4 linked regions of the Homo sapiens genome follow. The protein of the gene in region 2 interacts with the protein of the main gene of each other region in a biochemical or structural test. Each region holds a gene or a part of one and is shown on either strand. Other genes may lie near its edges.

Evidence for each region.
Region 1: of the proteins of CSNK1D (region 2) and MAPT, one has a biochemical effect on the other in vitro, tested with the Homo sapiens proteins (4 studies listed by BioGRID).
Region 3: of the proteins of CSNK1D (region 2) and CREB1, one has a biochemical effect on the other in vitro, tested with the Homo sapiens proteins (one study listed by BioGRID).
Region 4: of the proteins of CSNK1D (region 2) and LRRK2, one has a biochemical effect on the other in vitro, tested with the Homo sapiens proteins (one study listed by IntAct).

What each region holds. Positions count from the first base shown.
Region 1 is NC_000017.11:45,980,855-45,988,921, forward strand, and holds part of MAPT (microtubule-associated protein tau), read left to right. Parts: intron 1-2,011; coding exon 2,012-3,076; intron 3,077-6,185; coding exon 6,186-6,241; intron 6,242-8,067. UniProt on the Homo sapiens protein: Promotes microtubule assembly and stability, and might be involved in the establishment and maintenance of neuronal polarity.
Region 2 is NC_000017.11:82,263,470-82,271,536, reverse strand, and holds part of CSNK1D (casein kinase I isoform delta), read left to right. Parts: exon of another isoform or gene 1-4,812; intron 4,813-5,740; coding exon 5,741-5,851; intron 5,852-8,067. UniProt on the Homo sapiens protein: Essential serine/threonine-protein kinase that regulates diverse cellular growth and survival processes including Wnt signaling, DNA repair and circadian rhythms. It can phosphorylate a large number of proteins.
Region 3 is NC_000002.12:207,574,657-207,582,723, forward strand, and holds part of CREB1 (cyclic AMP-responsive element-binding protein 1), read left to right. Parts: intron 1-615; coding exon 616-798; intron 799-1,974; coding exon of another isoform or gene 1,975-1,991; exon of another isoform or gene 1,992-1,997; coding exon of another isoform or gene 1,998-2,037; exon of another isoform or gene 2,038-2,269; intron 2,270-2,453; exon of another isoform or gene 2,454-2,568; intron 2,569-2,848; coding exon 2,849-2,999; intron 3,000-4,864; coding exon of another isoform or gene 4,865-4,910; exon of another isoform or gene 4,911-7,165; coding exon of another isoform or gene 7,166-7,290; exon of another isoform or gene 7,291-7,490; coding exon of another isoform or gene 7,491-7,504; exon of another isoform or gene 7,505-8,067.
Region 4 is NC_000012.12:40,220,433-40,228,419, forward strand, and holds the start of LRRK2 (leucine-rich repeat serine/threonine-protein kinase 2), read left to right. Parts: upstream 1-4,564; 5' UTR 4,565-4,699; coding exon 4,700-4,850; intron 4,851-5,122; coding exon 5,123-5,208; intron 5,209-7,987. UniProt on the Homo sapiens protein: Serine/threonine-protein kinase which phosphorylates a broad range of proteins involved in multiple processes such as neuronal plasticity, innate immunity, autophagy, and vesicle trafficking.

The sequences.
Region 1 (8,067 bases), about 36 Mb from region 2:
CTGGGCTGTTCTTCCCAGAGACTGACAAAGGGCTCCCATAAGGCACCTGCAGAGCCTGTGAGAAGCTGAAGTCAATGTTTTCCTGACACCAGTTGATCTGTGCAGGATCCATTGATTTAACCACCTGCTGTGTGGCATGCACTGTGGTCGATGCCAGGAACAGGAATTGGAGGGGCCCATGAGCATGGCCAGTATCACAGGCTGGAGGTGCTGCTGCGCTCTGACCGGGCCTCTTGGGGATGAGCCCATGTCAACCACCTTGCCTCCGATGGGGTCGGGCCCACAGGTTACCTTTGTGTGTCCATGACCACACCTTCCTCCCCGACCTCATCCAAATCTCTTTCTTTTCCAAGCCCCTGAATCCTTCAGGGCTGCAGGTTTTGTTTAAAGCAGAGCTGGTGAGTTGCATAGGTTGTTGCATTGGGACTAGATGGGGTGTTCAAAGAGTTGGGAGTTAAAAAACATAAAGGGTATTTATTAGGAGAACCAAGGAGTGTAATTCTCCTGTTCTTAATATGCGGCCAGGTTAATGAATGTCACGTGAATGAACCAGAAAAAAATGAAGTGTGCCCTTGATCAGCTGGGTTGGTGTGCAGCAAGCTGTGTGACCAGGGGACAGCAGTGGTCCTGAGGGCCGTCACTGTCTGCCGTGCAGAGCCCTTCCTCCCACGGGGGCCTACCTCACCTGTGCCAAGGGCTTGTCTGTGGTCAGTGACCTGGATAGATCTGAATGGGGCTTCTTTTTCGAGGAGTCTTATGGCAGGTCTCTCAGTAAAGACTCCATTCTTGATGATCACACATTTTGGATTTTCCAAATCTGTCAGAGAATGGGCTTGAGGCGGGGTTTGTGGGCACTAGTTTCACTGGTTTCATTTACCAAAAAGGGGAGCAGAAGTCAAGTATGGTGGCTCATCCCTGTAATCCCAGAGGCAAGAGAATTGCTTGAGCCCAGGAGTTCGAGACCAGCCTGAGCAACATAAGGAGACCCCGTCTCCACAAAAATGAAAAATAACATTTTAGTCAGACGTGGTGGCATGCATCTGTGGTCCCAGCTGCTTGGGAGGGTGAGATGGGAGGGTTGTTTGAGCCCTGGAGTTAAAGTTGCAATGAGCTGTGATTGCACCACTGCACTCTAGCCTGGGTGACAGAACGAGACCCTGTCTCAAAAAAAAAAAAAAAGAAAGAAAGAAAGGAAAAAAAAAACTCATGCCTGTAATCCCAGCACTTTGGGGACCGGGGTGGGCAGATCACGAGGTCAGGAGATCAAGACTATCCTGGCCAACATGGTGAAACCCCGTTTCTACTAAAAATACAAAAATTAGCCAGGTGTGGTGGCACGTGCCTGTAATCCCAGTTACTCGGGAGGCTGAGGCAGGAGAATCGCTTGAACCAGGGAGTCAGAGGTTGCAGTGAGCTGAGATCGTGCCACTGTACTCCAGCCTGGGCGACAGAGTGAGACTCTGTCTCAAACCAAAAAAAAGGGGTGGGGGGCGGGGGCAGGAGAACAGTGAGAGGTAGGGAGAGGAAAGGGGATTCTCGCTACACCCAAACCAGATACCATCTAGAGGCTAGAATCTTTGGGAGGCTCAAATTCCCTAGAAAGCAGGAGAAGCTTCTGTAGCCCTCCCGCTTTCCCAGTAGATTAAGCCCAGGGCGGCTCCAGATGTGTGACATGCTCTGTGCCCAACCAGAGCCCATCATAGGCAGAGGAATAACACCCACACCAGAAGGGCCCTCGGAGGTCACCACGTCCAAGAACCCTCTTTACAGATGAGGAAACTGAGGCCCAGAGAGGGGAGAGCCACCTAGCGAGCTGGTGGCGGCTAGACCAGGAGAGCTGTCATTCCAAGCAAGCAAAGGCAACGAGACGAGCCCAGAGCTGTGCTCCCATCTCTTTGTTAGGGGGCCTGGGATGCCCTCTCAGTGTCATTTTGTCCAGGATGATGCTCCCTCTCTTAAGCGATTAATGCGCCCTTGCTAACCTTTTGCTATCGCTGCCTCTTCAAACCAGAGGAGTTGAGAGTTCCGGGCCGGCAGAGGAAGGCGCCTGAAAGGCCCCTGGCCAATGAGATTAGCGCCCACGTCCAGCCTGGACCCTGCGGAGAGGCCTCTGGGGTCTCTGGGCCGTGCCTCGGGGAGAAAGAGCCAGAAGCTCCCGTCCCGCTGACCGCGAGCCTTCCTCAGCACCGTCCCGTTTGCCCAGCGCCTCCTCCAACAGGAGGCCCTCAGGAGCCCTCCCTGGAGTGGGGACAAAAAGGCGGGGACTGGGCCGAGAAGGGTCCGGCCTTTCCGAAGCCCGCCACCACTGCGTATCTCCACACAGAGCCTGAAAGTGGTAAGGTGGTCCAGGAAGGCTTCCTCCGAGAGCCAGGCCCCCCAGGTCTGAGCCACCAGCTCATGTCCGGCATGCCTGGGGCTCCCCTCCTGCCTGAGGGCCCCAGAGAGGCCACACGCCAACCTTCGGGGACAGGACCTGAGGACACAGAGGGCGGCCGCCACGCCCCTGAGCTGCTCAAGCACCAGCTTCTAGGAGACCTGCACCAGGAGGGGCCGCCGCTGAAGGGGGCAGGGGGCAAAGAGAGGCCGGGGAGCAAGGAGGAGGTGGATGAAGACCGCGACGTCGATGAGTCCTCCCCCCAAGACTCCCCTCCCTCCAAGGCCTCCCCAGCCCAAGATGGGCGGCCTCCCCAGACAGCCGCCAGAGAAGCCACCAGCATCCCAGGCTTCCCAGCGGAGGGTGCCATCCCCCTCCCTGTGGATTTCCTCTCCAAAGTTTCCACAGAGATCCCAGCCTCAGAGCCCGACGGGCCCAGTGTAGGGCGGGCCAAAGGGCAGGATGCCCCCCTGGAGTTCACGTTTCACGTGGAAATCACACCCAACGTGCAGAAGGAGCAGGCGCACTCGGAGGAGCATTTGGGAAGGGCTGCATTTCCAGGGGCCCCTGGAGAGGGGCCAGAGGCCCGGGGCCCCTCTTTGGGAGAGGACACAAAAGAGGCTGACCTTCCAGAGCCCTCTGAAAAGCAGCCTGCTGCTGCTCCGCGGGGGAAGCCCGTCAGCCGGGTCCCTCAACTCAAAGGTCTGTGTCTTGAGCTTCTTCGCTCCTTCCCTGGGGACCTCCCAGGCCTCCCAGGCTGCGGGCACTGCCACTGAGCTTCCAGGCCTCCCGACTCCTGCTGCTTCTGACGTTCCTAGGACGCCACTAAATCGACACCTGGGTGCAGCTGCTCCACTCCCTCGGCCTCCTCCCGTGCTCAGGCTGTGGCCGCACGCGCCCCTCACGCTTGCCCGCCACTCTGCATGTCACCAGCACCCCCGCTCCGTGCTACCCACCTTGTTTGACTCTCTGGCCACTTGATTTGTCCACAACGGCCCATCAGCCCACAGGAGGTTTGGTGGGTGCCTTCCACCGACAGGATGACGGGTGCCCTCATGGTGTCTAGAACTCTCCAACCCTCCCATGTAGGCATAAGCAGCCCCACTTTGCAGATGAGGAAACGGAGGCTCAGAGAAGTACAGTAACTTGCCGAAGGCCAATGAGTAGTAAGTGACAGAGCCAGGTTTGGGATCCAGGTAGGTTGTCTCTGAAAGACACGCCTGTCCTGCATCCCACAACGCCTCCCAGGAGGTGCTGGAGTGTGGACGCCTAACACAGAGATGTGCAGGGCACACACAGCAGGTGACACACACAGCATCCAGAGGTGGCCCAGAGCTCATGCTGTGCCTTTGGCCCAGTGCCCTGCCCCCACCCACTCTGCCTTGTGGCAGGAAGACAAGGAGCAGACACAAGATCTCCCTGGTCCACATGCCACCACCTCCCTCTGCAGAGGACAAGGGGATCCTCATGCTGGCATTGGAGGGGGTTGAGCAGGGCCCACCTTGAGCCCTCAGGAGCACGACCACAGCAGCCCTGCAGGGAGGGATTGGTGGGAGGAGAGTCCCAAGTATCAGGGAGAGGAGAGTTGGTGTCCCACAGGAGACCTCAGAGCCACAAGGCGAGCTTGTTCATAAATTTGGGACCCTTAGCATTTCACAGTTATTTGCAGAGCCCAGAAATGGATGTTACTGAAGCTCACAGTTGCAAGCATCTGTTAAATTTTTATTAGATTTTACTTTTAGGGAAAACTTTGAAATGCTATAAAGAAGCCTGTGTTTAAAAGTTAAGACAGAGGCTGGGGGCGATGGCTCACGCCTGTAATCTCAGCACTTTGGGAGGCCAAGGCAGGTGGATCATTTGAGGTTAGGAGTTCGAGACCAGCCTGGCCAACATGGTGAGACCCTGTCTCTACTAAAATTACAAAAAATTAGCTGGGCGTGGTGGCGGGCACCTGTAGTCCCAGCTACTGGGGAGGCTGAAGCAGGATAAGTGCTTGAACCCAGGAGGCAGAGGTTACAGTGAGCCAAGATCACACCACTGTACCCTAAGCCTGGGCGACAGAGTGAGACTCTGTCTCAAAAAATAAAATAAAATAAAGTTAAGAGAGAAAAAAATATATCCTATATCCTTTGTTAAATTCCAAAACAGTAGGGGACAAATAACTGACTTGACAGGTTACTACAATATTTCCTGAAATGATGTTTTCTTGAATACTGGCCTACTAGAGGTTCATAGGTGTGTTTGGATTAAAAAAGAGTTCCATGGCCCAGTGACTGGGGGAAAAAAATAAAAGACTAAAGTAAGTTAAACAGGCTTTTCTGCTGCAGGACTTGTCAGAGCCTTTAATGTACTAATGGCCATTGTGACCCTCTGAGAAGGTCACAGAGTGGGTTTCCCAAACTTACTTGATTCTACCTGCTAACATTTCCTGGAGGAAGTTTGGGAAATGCCGATTTAGCAGATTCTTTTGTTGTGCCGTGGATGGTGCTGGTTGATGTGGGCAAAACAAAGAACACGTGAGTCAGATCCGCCTGGGGCTCTTACTAAAGTGCAGGTTCCCAGGTGCCACTTTAGGCTTACAGACCCAGTTGTGGGGTAAGCCTGGGAGTCTTTTAGCAGGTGATTCTGCCACATAGTATAGTTGGAAAACCTCTGGGCATACTCATTGCTGGTCCCTCTAGAAATCCAGGTGACAATAGCCAATGAGAAGCTCCAAGAGACCCAGTTGTCCATGGGGTAGAGGGAATGTGATATTGAAACCAAAGAAGAAAATCTATGATCAGTTTTCAGCAGTGACTGTCAAGAGAAGGAGAAGGGTGAGTTAGCGCTGATGCTGGCTGACAGGTCAGCGGGTTGGTTTCACCAAGGAGTGTGATGAAGGCTGATGTTGTCTGTGGGAATGTATGATGGTAACTGGTTTGTAGCTAATTTGGGGAAGCAGTGAGAATTCGTGCCCTTTGAAGACCAGTAAGTGGCAAGAAACCCACCAGGCCTGGCTCAGGGCTGGGCTGGGCTTGGCTCGTCTCAGAGCAGCTGGGGCTGGTGGCCAAAGCCACCATTAGTGAGGGGCAGGCCCTGGGGGTACAACCAGCAACTAGGGGACAAAGACAACCCTGCCAGCCTCTCCTATTCTGGAGGCGTGTGACCAGAAATGGAGATGGGTTGGTCAGCATAAGATGGCCAGGAAGGTGGAAATCAGGACTGCTGGCAATCTAGCCACATGGGCAGGGGAGCCGGGTGGTTCCAGGCAGTTTCCAAGGCCAAGAGGGTGAGCAGGCACCTCACAGGGAATCAGGGCCAAGCCTGGCTGCAGTGTGGAGACAATGCACCCACCCCCATCCTTGGATCTTGCAGGAGGCTGGGTCCTCACTGAGCTACCAACATCCATGGCCCTGAGGCTTTTAAAACACCCATCCATGGAGTGGGGCTGGTCCCAGTGGGGTGAGGCTGACCCTGGCAGAAACAGGGCAGGAGCCTGTGGGTTAGGGAGACTGCACCTTCCTTAGATAGCCTCCATGCCATCATGTCCCCGTGACAGTTTCTGCTGCGTCCCCTCTGCATGGTCCCACCCTCGGCCAGCCTGCTGCCCCCTCTTGCCAGGTTGCGCTAATCAGTGACCCCAGTGTGCTGTGTTGATACTAACAATGCGAGGCCTAGCAGATTCAAGGGAAAAGAGAACCAACTGGGTTTCCACCAGACCCAACTAAACAAACATGGACCTATCCCAGAGAAATCCAGCTTCACCACAGCTGGCTTTCTGTGAACAGTGAAAATGGAGTGTGACAAGCATTCTTATTTTATATTTTATCAGCTCGCATGGTCAGTAAAAGCAAAGACGGGACTGGAAGCGATGACAAAAAAGCCAAGGTAAGCTGACGATGCCACGGAGCTCTGCAGCTGGTCAAGTTTACAGAGAAGCTGTGCTTTATGTCTGATTCATTCTCATATATAATGTGGGGAGTATTTGTCACTAAAGTACAGCTGTCATTTAAAGTGCTTTGTATTTTGGGGCAGGCTTTTAAAAAGTCCAGCATTTATTAGTTTTGATACTTACCCCAGGGAAGAGCAGTTGGCAGGTTCATGAAGTCATGCTCCTAATTCCAGCTTTCTTAGTGTACTTTCAGTGAGACCCTGACAGTAAATGAAGGTGTGTTTGAAAACCAAACCCAGGACAGTAAATGAAGGTGTGTTTGAAAACCAGCCCTAGGACAGTAAATGAAGCCATCTTCTCACTGCATAAACTGCACCCAGATCTTCGCCCATCCTTCTCAGTATTTCACTTCACCCATTGTTTACTGTCTCAATGACTGGGGAAATGTCTGGGGAAATGCTCCCGTAATTGCACAGTGGCGTTTTTCCTGGAAAATCCCACCATGGCTCTAGATAAGACCTATTTTTCTTAAAGGTATCTAAAATTTCCAGCATAAATTCTGTCTGAAACACCTGAATTTTAATCAGTACTGGAGCCCGGAGGGCATCTCCAGTTGCCACATAGCTCTGAGCATTCAGTGGTGTGTTGAGGGCTGCTCCCGGAAGTGCCTGCAGAGTCAGGGCTCCCCAGCCTCATCTAGTGAGGCAGTGGAAGGGCCTGTGGGGATTTGGAGAGCTGGCCTGGGTCTCTGAAGTGATAGTGACAGCTGCTTGTCAATCACGGTGCACATTTAGTGCTGGGGGCAGGGGGCAGGGAATACCAGCCTCATGCATGCATGCATTCATTTGTTCCTTCCTTCATTCATTCATTCAGTACACATGGGTACAACATCCCTGCCCTGGAGTTGCCCAGAGTCTAGGGAGGGGAAAGATCTATTACCCTGGGCCTCGGCCAGCTGGGGAGTGCTGCTGGTGGAGAGGGGCCGTGTGCAGCGAGGGAAGGAGGAGTCGTCAATACCCCCACCCCAGCTTTGCTTTCTTGTCATCAGCCCCAGGGCCCCAGCCTGTGTCCCTCCTCTCCCATTGCTACTTCATCTCCTGGGTCCTCCTTACCAAGCCTGACCACACAGAGGGCCTTGGCCGCTTCCATGGGGAATTGGAAAGCAATAAGATAGCATCCCCTAGAAGCCCAGTGAAGTCTGGGACAGGACCCTTCTCTGAGCTCTGACTTGCTCTTGGAAACACTTCGAGGCTTAGCCTCCCCACTTTGTTTCCCGAGAGTGTGACCTGTTCCCCTCCAAACACCCCCTTCTCCTCCAGGGCCATGCCCACCCGTCAAAATCCCCCACGGGCAGGACGAACTGTGGGTGTCAGTCACCATCTATCCTGCATCCTGGTTCCAGGGCCCCCCCCAGCCCCGCCTCCATAGGGACAGGCGTGCAGACACCCGTCCCTGGCTGCTTCCTCTTGTGGAATGGGTTCAAAAGTAAGCAGTGTTGTTTACACTGACAAACTGAAAAAAAAAGAAAAAGAGATAACATTGGAGGCTTGGCACAGTGGCTCATGCCTGTAATCCCAGCACTTTGGGAGGCTAAGGTGGGAGGATGTCCCCAGCCCAAGAGTTCTAGACCAGCCTGGGCAACATAGCAAGACCCCATCTCAAAAAAAAAATTTAATTGGCCAGGCAGAGGTGGGAGGATCACTTGAACCCAAAGGGTGGAGGCTGCAGTGAGCCGTGATGGCACCACTGCACTCCAGCCAGGGCAACAGAGGGAGACCCTGTCTCTAAAACAAACAAACAAACAAACAAACAAAAGAGTTAA
Region 2 (8,067 bases):
GTGTTCTTGGCAGTGTTTGGGAAGTCAGAGTGCTTGGTCAATGGAAGTCGTTTGGCTTATTTATAGAACAATGGATTTTGGCGAAAGTTTTAACCCCAGGATCTGAGTTACACTGCAAAGCCAGTCCATTAGCCACCTTTAGGCAGGCATCAAAAAGGAGTATTTTGGGCCGGGTGTGGTGGCTCACGCCTGTAATCCCAGCACTTTGGGAAGCTGAGGTGGGCGGGTCGCTTGAGGTCAGGAGACCAGCCTGGCCAAAGTGGCGAAACCCCATCTCTACTAAAAATACAAAAATTGGCCAGGCGTGGTGGTGGCTGCCTGTAATTCCAGCTACTTGGGAGGCTGAGGCACGAGAATTGCTTGAACCTGGGAGGCGGAGGTTGCAGTGAGCCAAGATCACACCACTGCACTGCAGCCTGGGCGATGGAGTGAGACTCTGTCTCAAAAAATAAATAAATAAGAAGTACTTTGAAACTATCTGTTCTCTGATCTGAGACCTTGTCAAACAACTTTGTGCTTTCCAAAGATAGATTAAGACAAATTTTGGTGTGGTTGTCACCAAGTAATTCCAGAGGTGGAGGGTGGAAGGCTGTCTCCTCACTCAGCATTCTACCCTCCAGGCCTCACCTCGCGCTGGGCATACAGTCATGCTGGATACGGGATTGCGGGCGGCTGTGGCTCTGACACCCTGGGGTTGGAGCCCCCAGACAGCCGTCCCAGACAGCCACCCATCAGGGTACACGTCCAGTTACTTGAGTGGGGTTAGGCACAGCTGATTTTTTTTTTTCCCATCAGCATTGGCTCCTAGCCTACACTGTGGTCCTTTCAGACGACCCCACGGAGGAAAGGCGAGGTGGTCACGTTAGCCGGAGTAAGGCAGTTTGAAAGAAGCGTGGGTCTGAGCAGAATGGCAGTTAGAGTCAAAGATGGCTGATCTGAAGACTATGAGATGGATCGGTCATCCCCACCATAGTTTTGTTTGGGCAGCCAGTTACACATAAATCGAGGAACTAGGTCTTCATCTTGACCTCTGTGTGTCGTGTATATTCTAGTATGAGTATCGTTAAGACCATTCCTACTGTTGTCACTTTGGTATCCTCCAGGTGGGGTTCACCTTGCTTTGAGCTTGGCTTTTGGGTTCTTGTTTTTCTACCGGGGACTTTCTGTGCTTTCAGATGTTTGAGACCAGGAAGGGGGGAAGGCTGTGCTTCAGTGGAGTGCCTGTGGGCTAGAAGCGTGGTGTGGGCCTGCCTGCCCCGACCCTGCTGTGACAGTTGGAGGGCGGGTGCTCACTGCAGGGCCCTGCCAGGTTGTCGTGTTCCAAAATTGCCCCTTCAAAGGGGGCAGTATTTTGGGGCTATTTCTTGAATGCCCAGGCTTTGGAAAGTGGGACCCCAAAAAGAACAATCTGTCTTCAGTCTGAGATTGCCAGATCCGCAAGGCCCTTCAGGAGGGCAGGTTGGGAAGGTGACACAGCCCACACACACCTGTGGAGCGCACACCTTGGCAGCCTGTTGTGTGACCTGGCCCCGGCCCTGTGCCGCCCTCCGCATCCGTGTCCATGTGGTGTGGCCATAAACCAGAAGTTCTTTCACTTATGCTGGCAGAGTACCACTGGAAATAAACTTGGTAACATTTGAAAACAGCCAGTGTCCTTAATGTGGACCATGAGTTCCCAGCCCCAGAACCACAGGGGTGTCTGGCGGAAGAGGACTGTTCAGCTGGGCTAGGCTAGAGGGAGAGGCCTGCTGTGTTCACCCCGCAGGCGGCCCATGCAGAGAGGCAGTGAGAGCCCAGCTGGTCCTGCCTCTGTTCTCACCTGTAGTGTGTTCTGGAGGTTAGTGGCAGGACTGGATTACCTGGCTGGTGGGCTGGACAGATGAATCTGTTGGCATCTGTACTTGATCCCATCGCACCATCAGCTTGTCAGGGCCTCCATTTGTCCACCTGTTACCTGGATGGACTGACTTCATAATGTGCACAAGCATCTTTTGGGAGCTAACTGCTTCATCTCTGAAGCACACGTTTTTCCCCTCACTGACTGATTTCTCAAGAGGCAGCCTGCAGGGTGCCTGGTATGCAATAGGGCCCCAAGATGCTGACCAGCCATGAGAGGAGAGCGACCACCTGTTCTTCCTGTAGCTTCTGGGGTCTCCTCACTGCAGTGTTAGGGCTGTAGCCTCTGTTGACCTTGGACTCTCCTTAACTCAAGCATCTGTAATGAGAAGTCGTGGTACTGCTGACCGCTGCCCTGCGAGTTGACCTTTGTCCTGCTGCTCAAGGCGTCTCCCTGTTTTTTTTGTTGACAAGACAATCCTTAATGGGAGTTGCCAGCATCCAGGCTGGTAATTCAGAATTACCCTCCTGTGCCAGGACAGGGCCACACTCTGGTTAGGTTCGCTTAACTCACCATCTGCTTTTTTTTTTTTTTTTTTTTTTTAAGACAAAGTATCATTCTGTTGCCTAGGCTGGGGTGCAGTGGCGCGATCTCAGCTCACTGCAACCCCTGCCTTCTGGGTTCAAGCAGTTCTTCCGCATCAACCTCCTGAGTAGCTGGGGTTAGAGGCGCACACCAGCATGCCTGGCTAATTTTTTTTGTATTTATAGTAGGGACGGGGTTTCACCATGTGGGCCAGGCTGGTCTCGAATGCCTGACCTCAAGCGATCCATCAGCCTCAGCCTCCCAAAGTGCTGGGATTACAGGCGTGAACCACCACACCCGGCCACCATCTGCTTTTGGCTGCTGAACTTGAGGGACGTAATTTTGTTTTTGTAGGACTAACATTAACTGATACCCAAACACGGACTGAGGAAAGCCCTGTCTCACAGCAGACCAGGATTGTTGAGCTGCAGGGAAGAGTTGAATTTGTTTTGTTGACAGAATGTCTTTTGTATAAACAGACAACCCAGACAACCTGGTGATCTGCGTGTCACCAGGTTTTGGTTTGTTTTGAATCTGACACCCAGGGCTCAGGGTCTTTCAAATTCTCATTCCCCTTCTAGTAGTGCTTCTCGGATTTAACCTGTGGTGAAGAACCAGGCTTGTAATTTTCAACCTGTTGCATGCCAAAACTTGTGTATAAGGTCAAAATGCTGCAGCGATGCCAGATTGCAGCCACAGTTACTGAGCGCCTCTGTGCTGCCTTGTGCACTGATGGCAGCTTGAGGATCTGACTTTCAGCAGCATGGCTGGTAGAGTGTGGGGGTGCCCCCGGTGGGCGAGGTGGGACAGGGCTGCAGGCCAGGGGGTCTGAGCAGTGCTCAGCGACCTTGAGGCAGGTGGTGCCTTTGGAATGCACAGACCTTGGTGTTCTGCTTCTTGATGCTTCTGCCCAGCAGGTGACGAGGTCCCTGCTGCAGGCCCCAGAGAGTTGCCATCCTCACATCTGTGTACAGGACCTGCATCCAGCTACTCCCCTGTAGAGACTCGGGGCGACCTTGGTGTCGGTTCCACAGGAGGGCTGGCTCTGTGTGCTTGCACATCTGTGTGCTTGCACAGCGAGAGGTCCCGGCCCCATGATAGGGTGTGATTCGTGTTGTGTGCCAGAGCGGCTGGTGATGACTTTTGCCCCACGACAGTCAGTGCTGCAGGTGTGACTGGCAGACATTAGCTTTATCAGCTACAGAGAAGTGGAGTGAGAGATGCTAGTCAGCAGACTGTGTGGCCCCAAGCCATCGGCCCCAGGCCATGGGGTCACTGGGCTGCCAGCTGGCGAGGGTGGCGGTACTGTCCGAGGCTGCACTGCGCCTGCTTGGGGGTGCAGGGAGCTGCTGACATAACTAGTGGGATGAGTCACCCTCCCTCCCGGCTGGCGAGTTGAGTTCAGAGTCCAGGTCCTTAGAGGAACTCAGAGTGGTTTTTCATTTACACAGTACATTTTTCGATGAAGTCATTTCTCTTGTAATTGGATAGACTGTCCCAACTGTAGGCAGGAAGAACAAAATTTGTTACCTCGAGTACTCTGAAGAGTCTCTGTTGATAGTAAGTGACGTTCTTAAATCTAGAATGGTCACTGGCGGTGACCCGGTGGTGGCGATTCCTGTGGAACGCAGCAGTGGCAAGGGGTTTGGGGCCCAGGCTGGAAGTGGCACATCTCATGCCGCCATCTGGGCAGACGAGGGGCTTCCTGGGTGTTCAGTGGACGTGTGGATATCAGCAGACTGCTCTAGTGCTCACTTGACCTTACTCTGCTTTTCATCAGGGAACCTTATCTTAAAGAGCAGTAAAAGAAACTGTTAACCCATTCATCTCCACAACTCTCATGAAACAGACGTCAGACCTCACCACTGATCTCCATTGACAAGAGAAACCGAGTCACTAAGAACTAGCCAAGTTGCTTTGCCCAGCACCACAGTCTCTCAGGGAAGGAAGTCTCCCAGGGCTTTGTCTGGGCTGCTGAAGCTAGTGTGAATTCTTTTCCACATAGCCACGCTGTTGGGAAGGATCCAGTGTCCTTTTTTTTTTTTTTTTTTTTTTGAGACGGTGTCTCGCTCTGTCACCCAGGCTGGAGTGCAGTGGCGCGATCTCGGCTCACTGCAAGCTCCGCCTCCCAGGTTCACGCCATTCTCCTGCCTCAGGCTCCCAAGTAGCTGGGACCACAGGTACCCACCACCATGCCCAGCTAATTTTTTGTATTTTTAGTAGAGATGGGGTTTCACCGTGTTAGCCAGGATGGTCTCAATCTCCTGACCTTGTGATCCGCCCGCCTTGGCCTCCCAAAGTGCTGGGATTACAGGCGTGAGCCACCGCGCCCGGCCGATTCCAGTGTCTTATACTCTGAAGGGACTCGTGAGGGAAGAGGAGAGAGCTGGGTATGTACTGTGTGCAGCTTCTTTTTCTCTCCTGTTCGGTTAAAGCTCCTTGGATGCCTCATGCAGTGGATTTGGGGAAGGCTTTGGGCCAGATTCAAACTCAGGAGCATTTGTGGGTGAACCTGAGAGGGATGGTGGTTGTCACATTTGTCATTTATTGGAGTAAAGCAGAGATGGAACATTTCTAGATAAAAAGTGTAATTTTGCCTCCAAACTCATAGTCCGATCGTCATGGTATTAGATGTGTCATTGGTTTTAGCCATAGACTGATGAAAGATGTGTGACCGGTGCGTGTTGGTAGGTGGTACATTTAGGGCGTTGAAAACAGGCGATTCTTCTGGCTTTGTGTCCCCAGGAAGGGAGAAGGGCCTCCCTCCGCCTGGTGGAGGGTGTTTGCCTGCAATAGGTTGGCTAGAGATGACTCCCGCTGCCTGTGATGCCAGGCCTGGGTGGACTGGGACTGTGGCTATTGGGTAAAAACCTAGCCCTTCCTCAGGGGGAAACTCAAACCACCCCCTCGGAGGCCTATCAGGCAGCATGGAGAAAAGGGAATGGCACCGTGGAGCTCTACCACAGGCTGTCTGGGGCGGGCAAGTGCAGGGGCCTTGGGCAGGGCTGATGGGAGGATGCAGACCAGAAGGGCCACTGTGGAGAGGGAGCTGCAGCACCTGAAGACTGGTGGGCGGGTGATGGAAGCCACATAAACTTTCTGTGCAGTTCAAATTCGTCCTGTTGTGAAAATGGGAATATGGATAACTTCCCCCAGAGATGTGTCAGCCGATTAGCCCGCCTTACTATGCTAGGAAGGAGAACACATCCCTCACTTGGTCCTTCATGGAAAACACATAGTGCTTGTTGTTTCTCCAGCATGTTGGGTTATTTGGTGGATACCAGGTAATTCCTGTTGTGGTTTTCTTTCTTTGCCAAGGTACGGACATTGCTGCAGGAGAAGAGGTTGCCATCAAGCTTGAATGTGTCAAAACCAAACACCCTCAGCTCCACATTGAGAGCAAAATCTACAAGATGATGCAGGGAGGAGGTAGGTCTTTACCAGTCACAGAGCAACACCAGGGTTCTGTTTGACAAGGGAGAACAGCAACTCAGCATTGCTGGTTAAAATAAACCCAAAACTGGTTCTGGGCAAAAGGGAGGGAAGTGTTCTCCACACCCTGACAAAGCAGTCACAGCTTCCTTCAGAGAGTCTTGGGTCCAGAGACCCTCCCTCAACACAAAGAAACATCTTATGGGCCGGGCATGGTGGCTCACGCCTGGAATCCCAGCACTTTGGGAGGCCAAGATGGGTGGATCATTTGAGGTCAGTAGTTTGAGACTAGCCTGGCCAACGTAGTGAAACCCCGTCTCTACTAAAAATACAAAAATTAGCCAAGTGTGATGGCGTGCACCTGTAATCCCAGCTGTTTGGGAGGCTGAGGCAGGAGAATCGCCTGAGTCTGGGAGGCAGAGGTTGCGGTGAGCCGAGATCACGCCACTGCACTCCAGCCTGGGCGACAGAGTGAGACCCTGTCCCCCCCAAAAAAAAAAAAAATCTTATACCATCTTGTCCTTTTGTTTAAATTTTGCTTCATATTGGGTCATGGTTTCTGAAATCAAGAGTGTGTGTGAATAGGCCAGACGCAGTGGCTCACACCTGTAATCCCAGCACTTTGGGAGGCCGAGGCAGGCGGATCACGAGGTCAGGAGCTCGAGACCATCCTGGCTAACACAGTGAAACCCCGTCTCTACTAAAAATACAAAAAAAGTTAGCCGTTCGTGGTGGCGGGCGCCTGTAGTCCCAGCTACTTGGGAGGCTGAGGCAGGAGAATGGCGTGAACCCGGGAGGCAGAGCTTGCAGTGAGCCCAGATAGCGCCACTGCAGTCCAGCCTGGATGAAAGAGCGAGACTCCGTCTCAAAAAAAAAAAAAAAAAAGATTTTGTGTGAATTTCAATGCATGCTCCCCGTGGTGTCGTGTGCCCCTCAGTGGTCACTGGAGCTGTTGCCAGTGGCACGTGTGTTGCTCAGTGGGGCCTTCCTGATGTGTGATCCCTGAGTGAGGCCTCTGCTCCTTCGCATGCTTTGCTTATAGCTTGGGGGAAGTCCCTTCATACTCTCTGGGCTCGTTTTCTCCGAGCAAAACAAGGGTTTTGAACTTGGCGACCATCATGACCTCTTCCAGCTCAGTTACTGTCCCAGTTCTGCGAGCCCTCAGCCCAGGGCCTTAGGTACCTGGTGTTCCACGGTGGGCCAGGTGTGGAGCAGAGCGCTCCTGTCCTCCCCTCAGAGTCCAGCTCTTGCGAGTTCCCTGGACTTTCAAACAGTTGGGCTGATGGAGCAGGAGGGTATTCTCTGCGGGGATTTCAGAGCCATGAAGCGTGTGTCTCAACAGCAGAGCTTCGGTCTGGCAGGAGCCCTCTTTGGGAACAGAGCTTTTTGTCTGAAGAGTGGCTGTGCCACGTCTGTGGAGCCCTCCCAGTGAGAAGGCTCCGCGGCACATTTGTAGGTGGATGGTTGGGTGAGTCCCCTTGGGCAACTGGCCAAAGGAAAACCTGTTCAGGGCCTCTGTTAGCCCTTTTGTCACGGGAAAGGGAGGACTGTTGATTTGATTCTTTGACATCTTTTCTCAGCACAAGCACGTAATCTGTGCTACTACAAGAAACCGACGTTTCTAAGTTTATGTGACACAAAATATCTTTGGCAGCACCTGTGGTCCTGGGGAACCCGTTACAGAGAGGGGCACCCAGTGTGTCCCATCACGGGCCTCACGTGACCAGAGGAGGCCACAGGAATGAAAAATCCCATCACCAACCCAGGGAAAGCTCAGCAGAGACTCCGCCCTGGGAGCCTGTCTGGCGGCCCTTGGTGGTGGACTGGCTTCTCAAGGGCCTGGAGCCTGCATTGCCTTGAAGGTGTGACGAGCCAATAGAGCAGGGTGGTGCGGGGTGTGGCCTTGGCCTGCGGGAGCCTGGTGCTGGGGTCAAGTAAAACCTGCAAGCTTAAAAACACCTTAAGTTTTTACGAGAGATGTCTCCAGGAGAACTTGCAAGCCAGGGGTACACAAGGGCAAAGGGAAGAAAGCCAGTCCTTAGAAGCCCGGGATGGTCACTGGGGAAGCCAACCCTGAACCAAAAAGTGCTACGTGGTTCCGGACAGGACTTCTCCACTCGGCACTAGTGCCATTTGTAGTGGTGCGTTCTCTGCATGGTAGATGTTGGCAGCACCCCTGCCCCTAGTTGTGATACTCAAAACTTTCTTCAGAC
Region 3 (8,067 bases), on a different chromosome or scaffold from region 2:
TGAGCTCTGATTTTAAAATTCCATGAGAGACTGTTGATAATTAAGTTCCATAGGATATTTCAGTTGTTTCATTGAGTGGATTAGATACCATTAAAGAATTTCTACAAGAGTTAGGGAATACAATGCACTGATGAACTGCTTTATTAGTTATATGTTAAAACAACCATTTATTGGGTGCCTATTTCATGGCTGCCACTGTGCTAAGTGTATGAAAGTATATAAGAAAATTCCTACTCTCCAGAAATTTATTTACTAGTGGGACAAGTATTAATACATTATGCAGTTAATGCTAAAATAAAAGAAAGGATCACAGAGTGGAACCTCTTCAGAACCAAATAACTTCAGAAGGAATTTAACATTTTTCCACTTAAAAAAATTGTTAACAGGCATTATTATTATAAATTAGAATGCAGTTCATAGAGTGCATTTCTATTGTAGAAGTTGAATATGGGTTTCCTGAGGAGCAAGTTACTTGAATATATTAGACCCTTCTTGGTGATGTTATTTGCTGTAACTTCTCCTAGATTATTTTACAAATTATTCTACATTGGATGTAATGTTTTAAAAGTCTTATATGGTATTAAACTTGTAACAATAAAATCCATTGGCTTTTAGTTGCCATTACCCAGGGAGGAGCAATACAGCTGGCTAACAATGGTACCGATGGGGTACAGGGCCTGCAAACATTAACCATGACCAATGCAGCAGCCACTCAGCCGGGTACTACCATTCTACAGTATGCACAGACCACTGATGGACAGCAGATCTTAGTGCCCAGCAACCAAGTTGTTGTTCAAGGTAAGGGAATTCAGAATTCACAGGTGTGGTAAATTCTTCAAAATACTAAAATTTTATAAACTCACAGAAAAAGTAAGTATCATATTGCAAACCACCATTCAAATGTAGTTAACATTTCTTCAATATTGATAGTATTTTTCATGAACTCTTCCATTATTCCAATTGGACCAAAATGTCATGGCATAAAAACAACTATTTTCAGTTTTTAAAATATTGCATCTACCTTTAACATCTTTTGGGGTAGAAGAAACAGGATAGGTTAGAAGGAAAGACCAGGAAATCAGGAGTTAGAAAAGATGGATTCTGTATCTAACTGCATGGATCTGCTATGAGGCCTTGAGTAAAAGTCAGCTGCTCTGAGCCTCAGGAAAGTGTTTTGTTTTTTGTTGTTGTTGTTTTTGTTTTTTCATCTGTAAAATAAGAGTTGCACTGAATCTCTGGAAACAATCTTCAGAAGTTCAGGATTCTGTTTCTCTGCTTCCCCCCCCCCCCCCAAAAGAAATTTAAATCTTCTGAGATCATCAGTTTTTATTATTATTATTATTATTTTTTTCTAGAGACATGGTCTCACTGTGTTGCCCAGGCTAGTCTTGAACTCCGGGCCTCAAGCAATCCTCCTTTCTCAGGCTCCCAAAGTGTTGGGATGCCTCTGCACTTGACTCAGTTTTTGTTTCAAATGAAAACATTATATTCCACAGGATCTTATACCAATATGCAAATCTGCTGCTCTTTAGAGAAAAAGTAGTTGTTAAATTCTCGACAAATTATAGAAGTTGCTTTTTTTGGCTTTTTTTTTTTTTTTTTTAGTTTTTTTTTTCTGTTTATTTCAGGAATCTTTATGGATAGCAGTTAACCATTTTTCTTTGGATTTGTTTGAATATTTCAAGAATATAGTTAATGCCAGGTTAGAAATTTGCTGATTGAGGAAATAATAATAAATTTGTTTCTGAAAATATTTTTATAAATAATAATGCATTTTGCCTGTGTTAGGTAATGACAGTTGTATCCTTTCACCATGGATAATTGAATAATCCTGAAACACCAACTGGAGAGAGTCATAACTTATTTAAAGAGCCCTAATGTTTACAGAATATATTCTGTTATTAAACGAGTATTTGAAAAAGATACTATTTTGCTTATTGATGAGAGTAAAACACCTTTTCACTTTACATGCAGGTACTCAAAAATTGTAAAGCAGGATGTCAGTGAATTTGAATTCTGAACGTCAGTTTGAAGATGGTAACATGTTTAGTATATAAATCTTTTCCACTCAAACCATACATTTTAATTGATATTAATAATTAATATGAATAATTTTATAAAGACCTTCAAATTTTTTTAAGTAACATTAGGTTCCTTATTAGGAGAGCATATTATTACGCTGTTTTTAGAAGCAGTTTGACAAATAGTGATTGTGTTTGTTTTTACAAATGGTGAATCAGTTAGAAAAATAAAACTTCAGTTTATTTAGCCATTATCATTTACATTAAAACAATATGTTTTTCAAATAATATAATTGGCATCAAGTGATACACTTTTTCATACTTTTAGTTTTGTTTTAATTCAAAATTTATAATAGTTGACCATAATGCTTTATCTTCTTTTTCATTTTGCTATTTTATGAAAAATCATGGTCGTTTTTATGTCGTGGCAAGAGTCTACTTGAAATTTTTTAATATGAATTTACCAATATCAAAGGAAGACACTGAGGACTATACTCTATCTAGGAAGATCATCCAAGCTGTGCCCCACTTACCTTTTAGACTTAAGGTTGGTAAGCATGTTAACAACAGAATAGAACTGCATTCAAATGAAAAATAAAATGTAAGATCCAGCGGACATAGGTTACTGTAATAAATACATTACATTGGGAATTATTTCTTAGTAGTGGCGCGAAGAGTGCTGATTCTTTCAACGCTTTAGCCAGAATCATCTTTTCTTTTTTGTTTCCCTTTTAGTCCAAAATACATGCTTAGATTGATGATTGATACACATAATTGAATCAAGTTGCAATGTTTCTGTCTTACACCATGCTCACTGTTTTTTTCAGCTGCCTCTGGAGACGTACAAACATACCAGATTCGCACAGCACCCACTAGCACTATTGCCCCTGGAGTTGTTATGGCATCCTCCCCAGCACTTCCTACACAGCCTGCTGAAGAAGCAGCACGAAAGAGAGAGGTCCGTCTAATGAAGAACAGGTACAAATACTGCATTTACTTAGATTGTTATGTGTTAAGTGTGTCTTCACATTCTGCTGGATGTGTATCTTTACATCTACTGGTAATAGGATCTTTGCATTGAATTTTTTTTTTCCAGCAGAATTAATGGATCTTGCTAAATTTTCTTTATTTAATAAGCTGCACTTATAAGATAGCTGTATGATTATGGGTCAATCTTTGATCGTGGAGTAGTTTTCTTTCATGCAGTTTCCCCACAGGAGATTTAATGCACAACTTCCCTATGTCTGCACTCCAACCAGTTAGCCAGGTTATTTAAAAATGGTTTCTTTTCATGTATAGTATTGTTCAAGAAGATCAAGAGTTTCATATATGTATATTAACTGTGTGTTAAATTTTATCTATATTAAATTTACTTGATATAAAGTAAATGTATGGTGGCCAGTTCATGTTTTAATGAATAATATCTTTACTCAAAATAATAACATTTTAACACCTAAAGATTCTTCAAAAATATGTTAATTCTAAGAATACCATGTTACGGACAAAAATCTTAAAATATAGTCTTCAAAAAAATACTACATTCAAAATCTGTGAAATGTTGGTAAAGCAATTCTCAGAAAGTAACTTTATTGCTGTAAATGATTTTGCCGTCAAAAACAATAAAAATAAGTTACTAAATATTGGTTTAGAACTTTCATATAGAAGTGACCGAGACAAACAAAAGAAAATGAAAATAAGGTTATGTAAAGGTTTAAAAAGTTTGAAATTAGTGAAAGTATCTCACTGTTCATCCCAGGATACTTCAAACACTGATAAAGTGAAAGAAGCAGGGCTTCCAAGTCCTAGCCCTATCCCTCCATTTTGGGAGAAGGTATTAACCTTCTGTACCTCAGTTTTGTAAAATGGGATTCCAGCACACACCCAAAGTATTGTTGTAAGAGTCAAGTAAGAGAATCCTTTGAAAGCACTTTGTAACTGTAGTGCTCTGTTGAAATGGGTTTGTGTGTGTGTGTGCAATTTCACAGCTCAGATCAGCTTTTTTGTTCCTAAAATATTCTTAGCTGTCACAATGTTAGTAAATTATATCTAAACTCTGAGAAATGGCAGAGATTTTTCTGGGATATTAGAAAAAGAGTTGGAAACAAGCCAAGTGACTTTTTTTTTTTCTCCCGAGATGAAGTCTTGCTCTGTCACCCAGGCAGGAGTGCAATGGTGCAATCTCAGCTCACTGCAGCCTCCACCTCCTGGGTTCAAGCAATTCTCCTGCCTCAACCTCCCGAGTAGCTGGGATTACAGGTGCCCACCACCACGCCTGGCTAATTTTTGTATTAGTAGAGACATGATTTCACTATTTTGGCCAGGCTGGTCTCGAACTCTTGACCTTGTGATCCACCCTCCTCGGACTTCCAAAGTGCTGGGATTACAGGTATGAGCCATGGTGCCCAGCCCTCAAGTGACTTTTATTTGTGCTCCATCCATCTGTGATTTTGAGTATTTAAGTTTTACTAAAGAGAAGCATAAAAGCTGCATTCATAATTCAAATATATTTTAAAATATAAATTAAAATCTGTAAATAAAAATTAAAATATTTTCAGTTTTTAAAAATGTTTATAAGGAAACCTTTAACTTAAAATTAGAAGCAAGTCTGATCAAGAAGTCTCAAGCACAGGCTGAGTAGTAATATTTAAGACAACACTGCTTACTAAAGAAAAGAGTTCAAAGCAAACATAGGAGCAGAATCAAAAAATAAATCCTTTTGATTATAAAAAACAACAGAAGGACTTCTGTTTATGTCTATGTAGTTTGGCTGTGTGGAACAAAATGTTTACCCCCGTTGACTGGCAGACCAAATTTCCTTTTTGTTCTATTTATTTTTCTTTCAGATTTATGACCACTGCCACCAACAAGTTAGGAACAGGGCACACATAACTACAGTTCCTACCAGGCTTTGCTTGCCTGAGATCTTCAGGGAAACTACCCGACTTACCATGGACTCTTTCATAACATTACTTTGCTTAGATATAGTTACCCTACTCTTTAAAAAGGAAACTTCTCATTGATTCTGCCATAGTTCCTTTTCCCCTTTGTTACCAGATTACTGCTGCTTTTACTTTTTCAGCCTCCATTCACTGGAATCTGGCTTCTATGACTAGCATACCGCTCATATGTCTATAAAAAGGTACAAATTCCCTCCCACTTGGCAAATCTAGTATTTTCTTTCATTTAATTTTAACTCTATGGAGTATTTGACACTTTCGACTTCTCATTACTCTAAACTCTTCCTTGGCTTACTTCACCTGGTTTTCTGGCTACTTTTCAAATTTTTCCTTTGAACCTTCATCCATACCCATGTATTTCAGGCATTACTTTATATGCTGATACTTCTTAATTCTGTATATTCTGGCTTTGACCTTTCTGCCGAGTGCTATTTATTAAGCTCCAGTATATATTATTTTATTAATTCTACCTACAGTGAGGTAGAAGCTTATCCCCACTTTAGAGGAGGAGAAGGTAAATATCAGAAAATTCAAATATTTTGCCAAAGGTCACACACTTTATGAGATTAGTAGAACTGAAATTTGAACCCATATCTGGCACCAAAACCTGTAAACATGCTACTTCACTGATTCCAGTATGCAGCCATCTTCTGCTGTGCCTCTCAAACCAGAGCACATGGCAGTATGCTAGGGATGTGTAGCCTAAGGAGGTGAACGTGGAGTGCTTTCCTTGAATGTTCATTTTGCTAAAATATTTGAGAGAAATAAACCTTATTTTTAAGGTAAAATAAGAGTTTTAAAAGAAATTTATACCAGCAGTGGTTTTGCTGCACCCCCAGAGTCTCCATATTTGGTTTCCTCTTCTAGTGTGGCTATTTCAGTGGAAAAGTTAAGAGAAGCACACTCCTAAGCATGCTCACTAGGATGAATTTCCCTTATGCACATCAAACACAGCCTATCTTAAAGTTTGATAGGAAAAGATTGTAATCCAAAAAATTCATCACTATCCAAATTGCCATTTATTTCAAGATGAAGGTAAGTGGTAAACATTCTAAAAGAAAGTGTAGACAGCTCTTCTGTTAATTTGTGTTGCTACAGTAACAACCACGAATCTCAGTGTCTTAAAATTTCTTCCTCACTTCTGTTACATTTTGGCAGCTGCAGGTCAGTTGCTGTGGCTCTCCTTCATGTGCCCATCTGGGTCTAGGATCCTGGGCTAGATAGAGCAGCACGTCTTTGAGAAAAGGGCAATGCTTTTGAAAGCATTTGCTTGATTTTGGTGAACGTTACATCTACTCGTGATCTGTTAGCCACAGCACAGGCAAGGACAAGCCCAAAGTCAGTGGAGTGGGAATGAACTCTTCCTACAGGAAGTGGAGAGTGAAAAATTGTGAAAGTAATACAATCTATCACCTTTGCCTTTATGTAACTTTACATTGTAGGGGGATTTTAAAAGCAGATTCCCTAAAGGCAGAAGTAACAAAGGAAAAGGTTAAATGGATTTGACCATATAAAACTATAAACCCCCTATTTAGGAAAGTAAAAGATAAAGTAGCAAACATTTTAACAAATAATGTCAGAAGACTAATGAGTTGAGGGATATAAATAGGCAGATTCTTAGAAAATGGATAGGGTAAAAAATTTGAAAAATTCTAAAAAAATTAAAATGTATTTGATATGAATTAAAATATATCCATTCAACTATATACAACTAGCCATTAAGAGTAAATAAAGGTGTATTTTTATTAAGATGGGAAGATGTTCTCGGACAAAAGCAGGTTACCAAAGAGTATTTACATTACTATCAGGTTTTTTAAATTTATTATTACACAAGTAAAACATGTTCATTATAAGTAAATTAAGAAACATTACCTAAAAATTGAATTACTTCTAATTTCACCATCTAAAATGTTAACATTCTAAAGTCAGTTTTTTTACTCAAACCAGTACAAAGGTAAATATACATTTTTAATATATTTTTAAGTAATTTTAAACTTACAAAGGAGTTTTAAAAATACAGAGTTCCGGATACCCTTCATCCAGCTTTCTCTAATCTTAGTATATTACATAACCAGGGTACATTTATCAAAAATAAAAGTACATTGGTATAATACCATTAACTGAATTATACATTTTATTTCCCCAGTTTTTTTACTTACATAATCCAGTTTGGGTACCATATCGCATTTAATTATAGTCTCCTTCAGTCTGTGAAAGTTTGTTTCCTTGTCTTTGATGGCCTTGTAACTTTTGAAGAGTAGTGATCTGTTTTCTTTTAGAATATCCCTCAGTTTGCATTTGTCCAGTGTTTTCTATGGATAGATTGAGATAATAGGTTTTGGGGAGGAATTCCACAGAGGTATAGTGTGCCTTTCTCATAACATCACATCCGGGAGCACATACATAATTGGCGATATTAACTTTGATCACTTGGTTAAAGTGCTGTCCAGGTGTCTCCACTGTTGAGCTACCATTTTTCTCTTTGTCCAGCCCATATTCAAGGGGAGGAGAATTAAATTCCACCTCCTAAAAGGGAGAATATGAAAGAAATTTGTGGTCATATGTTAAAACCACCACAGTAATTAGGTGTATTTTAGAAGAAGTACTTGGAGGCTATGCAGATATATTCTTTTCTCTTTAAAGTTTTGCCCACCAGTTTTAGAATTCATCAGTAAATCTTGTCTACAGTAATTATTACTATTTGCTATTCTAATGGGAATTTTGTATATCTCCATCCCTTCTAATATATTTAACAACTGAATTCTATAAACAAGATTTGTTTCTTCTCCACATTATTTATTTTATCAATACAGACACATACTTTGGGAGTTATAATCCAATACTATTGTTATTTATTATGTTGTTCATATTGTTCTAGCTTTGGCTACTGGGATCTTTTATAAGTGTCTTCTGTGTCCTTTTGACATGCCCCATTTTTTTCTTTTTAAGCACATCTTTACTTTCTGAGACTACAAGATTGTCCAGGTTCTCATCTTGTGTTTTCCCTTCCCTAGCCTTGGAATGAGCTGTTTTTCCAATGATCTCTAGTTCCTTTATTAGAAAATGGTGGCCAATATGGTGAAACCCTC
Region 4 (7,987 bases), on a different chromosome or scaffold from region 2:
TGGTCAGGCTGGTCTCAAACTCCTGGCCTCAAGTGATCCACCCACCTTGGCCTCCTAAAGTGCTGGTATTAAGGCATGAGCCACCGTGCCTGGCCATATTTTTTAAACTTATATATATAAAAACTAGGATACTTATCTTTTCATTTATAATTTGTGATAGTACCTTTTATATATTCTTCTTATTAATTTTTAATTGTTACACGCTTTCCCAAAATCTTCCAGCCTATGGTCATCTTTTAACTTTGTTGATGGAGTCTTTTGTATAGTGTTAGATTTTAATGTCTGTAAATTTAATAATTTTTTCCTATATGAACTGTGATTTTATTTTATTTTTTTTTAGTTTAGAGACAGGGCCTTGCTCTGTCCCTCAAGCTGGAGTGCAGTGTCACAATTGTAGCTCAGTGTAACCTATAACTCCTGGAATCAAGTGATCCCCTTGCCTCAAGCTTCCTGAGAAGTTAGGACTACTGGCATGCACTACCATACCTGGCTAATTTTTAAATATTTTGTAGAGACAAGGTCTCTCTATGTTTCCCAGGATCGTCTTAACTCTTGGCCTCAAGTAAGCCTCCCACCTCGGCTTCCCAAAGTGCTTGGATTACAGGTGTGAGCCACCATACCTGGCCTTAACTGTAATTTTTGTTTTGTTTCTTTCCCTCTTAATGTCAGATAGTTTTCTATATTTTTTTCAAATTTTTTTTTTTTTTTGAGACAGTCTCACTTCTTCACTCAGGCTGGAGTGCAATGGTGCGATCTTGGCTCACTGCAATCTCTGCCTCCTGGGTTCAAGCAATTCTCCTGGCTCGGTCTCCCCAGTAGCTCGGATTACATGCACGTGCCACCACACCTGGCTAATTTTTGTATTTTTAGTGGAGACGGGGTTTCACCATGTTGGCCAGGCTGGTCTCGAACTCCTGAGCTCAAGTGATCATCCCACCTGGGCCTCCCAAAGTGCTGGGATTACAGTCATGAGCCACTGCACCTGGCCTGTTTTCATTTTTTATACAAAAATGTTCAATCCATGTGGAATTTATTTTTGAATATGGTGTGAGGTAGGCATAATCATTTGATGCTTTTTCCACAAACAGTGGTCTCAGATTCATTTATCAAATTGCCCTTTTTTTTTCCACTGATACATAATGCAACATCTCTCATATATCATTTCCATATATGTGAAGATGTGTTTCTGGGTTTTCTATACTCTCATTGGTCACTTTGTATAGCTGTGTCAATAACATGCCAATTAATTTCTATAGCTTCAAAAAAGTATAATGCTTCCTATACTGTATAAGTTGTGTCCTCCATAAGAACACCAGGGTAGAGACTGAAATCCAAATCCTGCTTGATACACCCAGATATAAGGCTGTGCCTACCTAAAAGGCACTTTTTTCTAATTCATAGAAAGACTGCCTGCTGGGTAAACTATGTGCTTTCAGGGCTCCCCGCTTTCATCCTAGGGGTACTTTTTCCTTCTTCAGAAATTGATAGAGAAAGGCTACTACATACTCTGAATGGATGTCAATTGGACATCCAAAAGGACAAGATGGCAATTCTCCCATCTTGTCCTTCTTCAAAAGTGTCTAGTCTATACTAGGCCTTTTGATCTTGCTGAAATCTATGTAAATCTTGTTGAGAATTTCACTAATCTTGCATTGTTTTTTATTACTTTGTAGAGAATTGACATATTTTTGAATTTAGTTTTCCCATTAATTAATGTGATATTAATATTTATTCATGCCTTTTTAATGCCTTTTAACAGAGTTCAATAATTTATTCATAAAGGTTTTGTAAATATTTGTTAATTTATTTTCAAGGTTTCCCTTTCATTGTCATCATACACACACACACACACAATTGCACTTTATGCTTGTGCATCACTCATGTTTAGGAACACATTTTTTTTATAATGATGACATTAAAAAATACTTATTGGTCATTCAAAATGAATTTCCTTTTCAAAACCTTAGTTTATTATTTTTTTTCCTGGTCTATCTGTGGCGTAATACCCTCCTCCCAGTGATTTGTAAGAACTTTTGAAAGTTGAAGGCAAATTGTATTTCATCATATGTATTTCAAATTTTTTCTTCCTGTTTGCCGTTTGACTTCTAGTTTCATTATTGGGTATTTTTTCTTTGACTGCAGAAAATTTAAATTTGATGGAGTCACATATACTACCCTTATGTGATTTCTTTTTTGTTTTTATGTTTCCTTTTTCAAGATTATATAACTATTAATTTATATTTTATTTTTGAAGTTATTTTTATTTAACTTTTTAATCTATTTGATGTTTGCTGTAATTAGTAATGTCAGTTTTATTTTTTTTCTTTTCAGGAAATTAGCCAAATGTTCTAGCACCATTTTATTCTCCACTGAACCCTGCTTCCATCATAAATTCATGCCTTAATCTTCATTTTCAGTCTTGTTAACTACTTGAAGAGTTGATAAATCTTGGAATTTCAGTCAATCAATTAAACATTTTTGAAAACTAAGAGAATACTTTACCTTAACACTGCAGTAGTTCATGGGAGAATGCTCCCAACAAATAATTCATATTTTCACACTGTCTACTCACAGTCTGGCCAATATAGAGTAGATAATAAATAGGCAATAGATGGATGAATGAATTGTGGAAATTAGGAGACATCTTTTAATTTAGATTTATTTTTCTTTGGAAGGGAGGTAGGTTTTAATTTCTTGCAAGGTTGTAATTCAGTAGAACAGGAAGGGAGAAACTAATGCAGAGGAACAGAAGGAATGCATGAGATGGAGAATGCCTAGAAATGTTTGAGACATTGATTAAGTCATCAGAAATGGAAACAAGTTTAGAAACAACTTAGAAAATAATACACTGTAGGTCTGATAAATATTGTAAGATTGGGAGTTTTTTGTTAAATTATGGAAAATTTTATATAGATACAATAGTAGAACAGACCACATGAACCCATCTCATATTATCTTCAACAATTATCAATTCAAAAGTTGTTATCGTTATCTCTATCTCCACACATTTCATCTTTTCCTCCACCACTGGATGACTTTGAAAGAAATCCTAACCATTTCAACTATAAATATTTTAGCATGTCTCTGTAAAAGTTAAAGACTCTATAACAACAAGACATAGACCCAATATCCAGGTTGAGTAGGAGTTTGCTATCTTACTAATCTAATGTATTAACAAAGTCTAGAGCATTCTTATTAAAGTGGTAGAGCATGAAGAACCTTCTACCTGGAGTTAGGAGATTTGCTGGGTTGAAGTCCTGGCTCTCAACTTCCCACCTGTGTGACTCCAGCAAAGCTCTTCACTTCTCAATTCCAAATCTCAATTTCCTCACTAGTGAAAGAAGGATACATAGTAGTAGTTGTATCCATTTCAGAATTGTCATCAGGATTGAAGTAACAGATGTGAAAACAAAACTAAAATTGTGAAGTAGTAACTTCCAGTCCAATCCTCTTCTTTGTAAGTGATCTTGAGGACAGACACATCACCTGAAGGATAGATCATCTTTGCCTAGCCTTGTCTACAATGTTCTTGCTAGGTTTCTTTTCCTAAAAACACATTACTTAGGTACTTAACAGAACAAACAAACAAACAATCAAAAGACAAAACCAAAAAACTTTGGGGTTATAGACACCCATACTCATAAGTATTTCTGAATACCAAGAGAAGAGTATTTAGGTTTGCTTCTCTCAACTTTTCACCTTTCATTTCATGTACCCTGTCCTTTGTCTCAGCTCTAATAGCTCTGAGAGCTGATTACTTTTCGGGTGTCCCAAGTATCAGGATCCTGCCTAGTGCAACTCAAATTTCCAAAAGTTAATTTAGTGGCCTTTTGGTGACCAGAGCTTCAGATAACTCACAGGGAAACAATGTTTATTTCCTCTCCCACTAACAGTCACAAAAAATCATAAAAAAGAGTAGCGGGGGCAGTTTTGATGGCTAACCCCTCTTTCCATCCTTTGGGGGAAAATTGCTCATCTCCCTATAGGTGGAACTCTAAAGACAATGTATTCCTAAAAGGGGCCATCTGGGCGGTGTCCTCTTTTCCCAGCGCCCTGATTTCTATTCTTAGATCTGGAGATAGGCGGCTTTCATTTTTCCTGCTCCCAGTTCCCAGACCTTCCGTGGGGCCGCAGGATCCCCGGCTGGCGGGTCGCGGAGGGTGGCCGGCCGGGCTGCGCACTGCGCGCCTCCGCTGCGGGGCTCCGGGCCTGTGGACTCAGCGGAGTCCGCTGAGTCAGTTTCTTCCCGCGCGACTCCCGGCCGCGCCGCCGCTGCGGTGGAATCTGGTCCCAGGAGGCGGCGTCCGCCCGGGGTCCGGTCTAGGCGTGCGTGGGGGCCACGGTCACGGTCATCCCAGCCAGGCCCGGCTCCAGCAGCCCCACGGCCGCCGCCAGAGTTCTGCGCGGCCCGTCGCCTCGGCGGAGCCTCTGGCAGGCCCCTGAGCTCGTTTTTGGGGCCTGAGTGGGGGAGGAGGAAGCCGAGCAGGAGGGCTCCGGAGAGGGAGGGCAACGCGGGGCGGGGAGCTGCCTCCTTCCTCATAAACAGGCGGGCGTGGGCGCCGATGGGGCCCGCGGGGAGCGCTGGCTGCGGGCGGTGAGCTGAGCTCGCCCCCGGGGAGCTGTGGCCGGCGCCCCTGCCGGTTCCCTGAGCAGCGGACGTTCATGCTGGGAGGGCGGCGGGTTGGAAGCAGGTGCCACCATGGCTAGTGGCAGCTGTCAGGGGTGCGAAGAGGACGAGGAAACTCTGAAGAAGTTGATAGTCAGGCTGAACAATGTCCAGGAAGGAAAACAGATAGAAACGCTGGTCCAAATCCTGGAGGATCTGCTGGTGTTCACGTACTCCGAGCGCGGTAATCACTTGAAAATAAACTGTGCTTTTATTTTTGCAAACTTTCTCCCCCTCCTTACATTTGCAAATTTTGTCCTCCTCCCCTTGACCCTGCTCAAACCCGGACTCTTAAGGAGCCGCAAACTCCCATATCCTTTCCTTAGGGCAGAAAGCAGCTGAGAATTTCAGGAAGGTCTTCACCTTTTTGACTTTTCTCCCCGTTTCAGACTAAAAAGGAGAGGGGGTGCTGTGGATTGTGACTTTGCTTCTTTTCCCCACCCACTTGTTTTCCAGCCTCCAAGTTATTTCAAGGCAAAAATATCCATGTGCCTCTGTTGATCGTCTTGGACTCCTATATGAGAGTCGCGAGTGTGCAGCAGGTAAAGGCATTGTTTTCACTTCAACTCATTCTCCCTTCTGTTTGGAAGGAGACGTTTTACTGGCAATGTTAATATAGCCGAGAGTTCTTGGTTATTCCCAAAATTTGGCTTGAGGAACCTCTGACTGTGATTTTAAGATGGGAATATTGTTAAATCATTACGCAATGTAAACGGGATGAAGAGCCCCAGTATGTGTTCCCTGAGTGTCTTTAAGAAGTAACTTTATAAAACCAACAGTATGGATGGTGGTAGAAGGAGGATAAAAATGGGTTCGGTTTTAGTCTCGTTATTGGCAAGATGAATTCATTAGTGTTTAGACTTGACTATTCCAAGTATCTTCCCAATACAGAGCATGTCCTAGATGAGAAGATTATGAATAGTTTGGAAAAGGGGAATAATTAATAGTGATAAAATGCAACTTTGTCACTAGCAAACTCTTGTAGAGTTCAGCACTTTTTAAAATTCAAAGATTTCTAGCCTTTAGTTGTAGTATACCTTGTAGTATCTAAAGAAAGTGATGTCTTATGAGACCCTCATAGTTTGCAACTGTTGTCATATAAAATGCATGTAGAAGTGAAACTTTTACAATCTGTACCATAGGAAACCCAGAAATTTGCTATGTATCTTGGATTTTTTTTTAAAGGGGGCCTTAAAAATGGTAATTAAGAATGATTTACAGTCAAAACAAAATTATAGGCCAAGGTGATAACTTCCTTCGGAGCACTTAGAGATTTGGGGAACTGAAATCAGTTTTGTCATCTGCATGTTAACTCATGCAGAGAAAGAGAATTGGACTTTGAACTCCTTGGAGGTGCAGTCAGAAAGCCAATGTTTCTTAATGGTTGAGAGGCTTGACAGACATGAGGCATCTCAATCTTTAAAGTGGTGTGGGTCTATCTTTATCTTGATGTTTATCTCTGTATCTAGCTGTATCTAGTCTGGGTGAACCATCTAGCTTCTTTGATATGAGGACATTTACATCTGGAAGAAATATTTTAATTTGTTTTCAACTGTGAAATATTTTCCATCTGACTATTATAGATTTTCACGCTGCTATCAAACCAAACCAAGAAAAGATGGAGGCATAATAAAGATGCTGTTCTTTTAAGACTCAAAGTCGGAATTTTGCCTGTGGAATATGAGTCACTTTTTGGGCACTGGCCTATTGTGCTTCCTGCTCTGCACCCACGTCATCCCTTCTTACTTGTCTCTGCTTTGGTGTTCAGAAGTGCCTGATTCTGGCCACCTTCATTCCCTAGACTCTGTACTTGATAGAGTCACTCCTGCTTGATACTGCTCAGGACAGTCAGATCCTGGGTAGGCGTTTTGGTCTGCAGGGTCTAGATAAGGCAGTGCTATACTTGACAACCCAGGGGAGCCTGGAACATACTTCCTAATTCTTAATTTTAGAAATTGCCCAAGCCTGAGCATACTTGTCCGGAGTAGTTATGAGTGTCACTTAGTATTTCTGCCTAGAGAGTACCAGAGGCAAAGTATGCTGGAAAATAAGGAAGAGTTTTTTTAAAAGTAATTAATTACTTTTTTGGATATATCATAGTTGTATATATTTTGGGGATACATATGCTATTTGATACATGTATACAATGTGTAATGTTCAAATCAGGGTAACTGGAATATCCGTCACCTCGAACATTTTTCTTTGTGTTGGCAACGTTGCAATTTCTTTCTTCTAGCTATTTTAAAATATGCAATGAATTATTAACCATAATTTCCCTGCTATACTATTAAATATTAACTTAATTGCTTGTATCTAATTATATTTTTGTACACATTAACCACCTTCTCTTTATCCCTCCCCATCCTTTCATTTCCAGTCTCTGGTAACCACCATTCTACTCTCTTCCTCCATGAGATCCACCTTTTCCGCTCCTACATATGAGTGAGATTATGCAATATTTTATTTCTGTACCTGGCTTATTTAATTTAACCTAATGACCTCCAGTCCCACCCATGCTGTTGCAAATGACAGGATTTCATTTTTTATGACTGAATAATATTCCATTGTGTATGTATACCACATTTTCTTTTATTTTTAGTTAAGTAATTAATTTAGAGACAGGGTCTCACTCTGTTGCCCAGACTGGAGAGCAGTGGTGTGATCAAAGCTCACTGCAGGCCTGCAATCCTGGGCTGAAGTAGTCCTCCTGCCTCAGCCTCCCAGGTAGCTAGGACTATAAGCATGTGCCACCATGCTCAGCTAATTTTTTTTTCTTTTTTTACTTTTTGTAGAGATGGAGTCTTGCTATGTTGCCCAGGTTAGTTTCAAACTCCTGACCTCAAGTAATCCTCCTGCCTCGGCCTCCATATTTTCTTTGTTAATCTGTTGATAGACATATAAGGTGATTCTGTATTTTAACTATTGTGAACAGGGCTGCAATAAACATGGGAGTTCAGATATATCTTTGATATACTGATGTTCTTTTTTTGGATATATACCCAGCGATGAGATTACTGGATCATATGAAAATTCTCTTTTTAGTTTTTTAAGATACCTCCATACTGTGTTTCATCATGGCTGTGCTACTTTATATTCCCATCAGCAGTGTACCACCATTCCCCTTTTTCTGCATCCTTACCAGCATTTGTTATTTTTTGTCTTTTTGATAATAGCCATTCTGCCTGTGGTGAGATAATATCTCATTATGGTTTTGATTTGCCTCTCCCTAATGATTAGTGAAGTTTAGGATTTTTTTTTCATGTACCTGTTAGCCATTTGTCTGTCTTCTTTTGAGAAATGTCTATTTGGATCTTTTGTCCA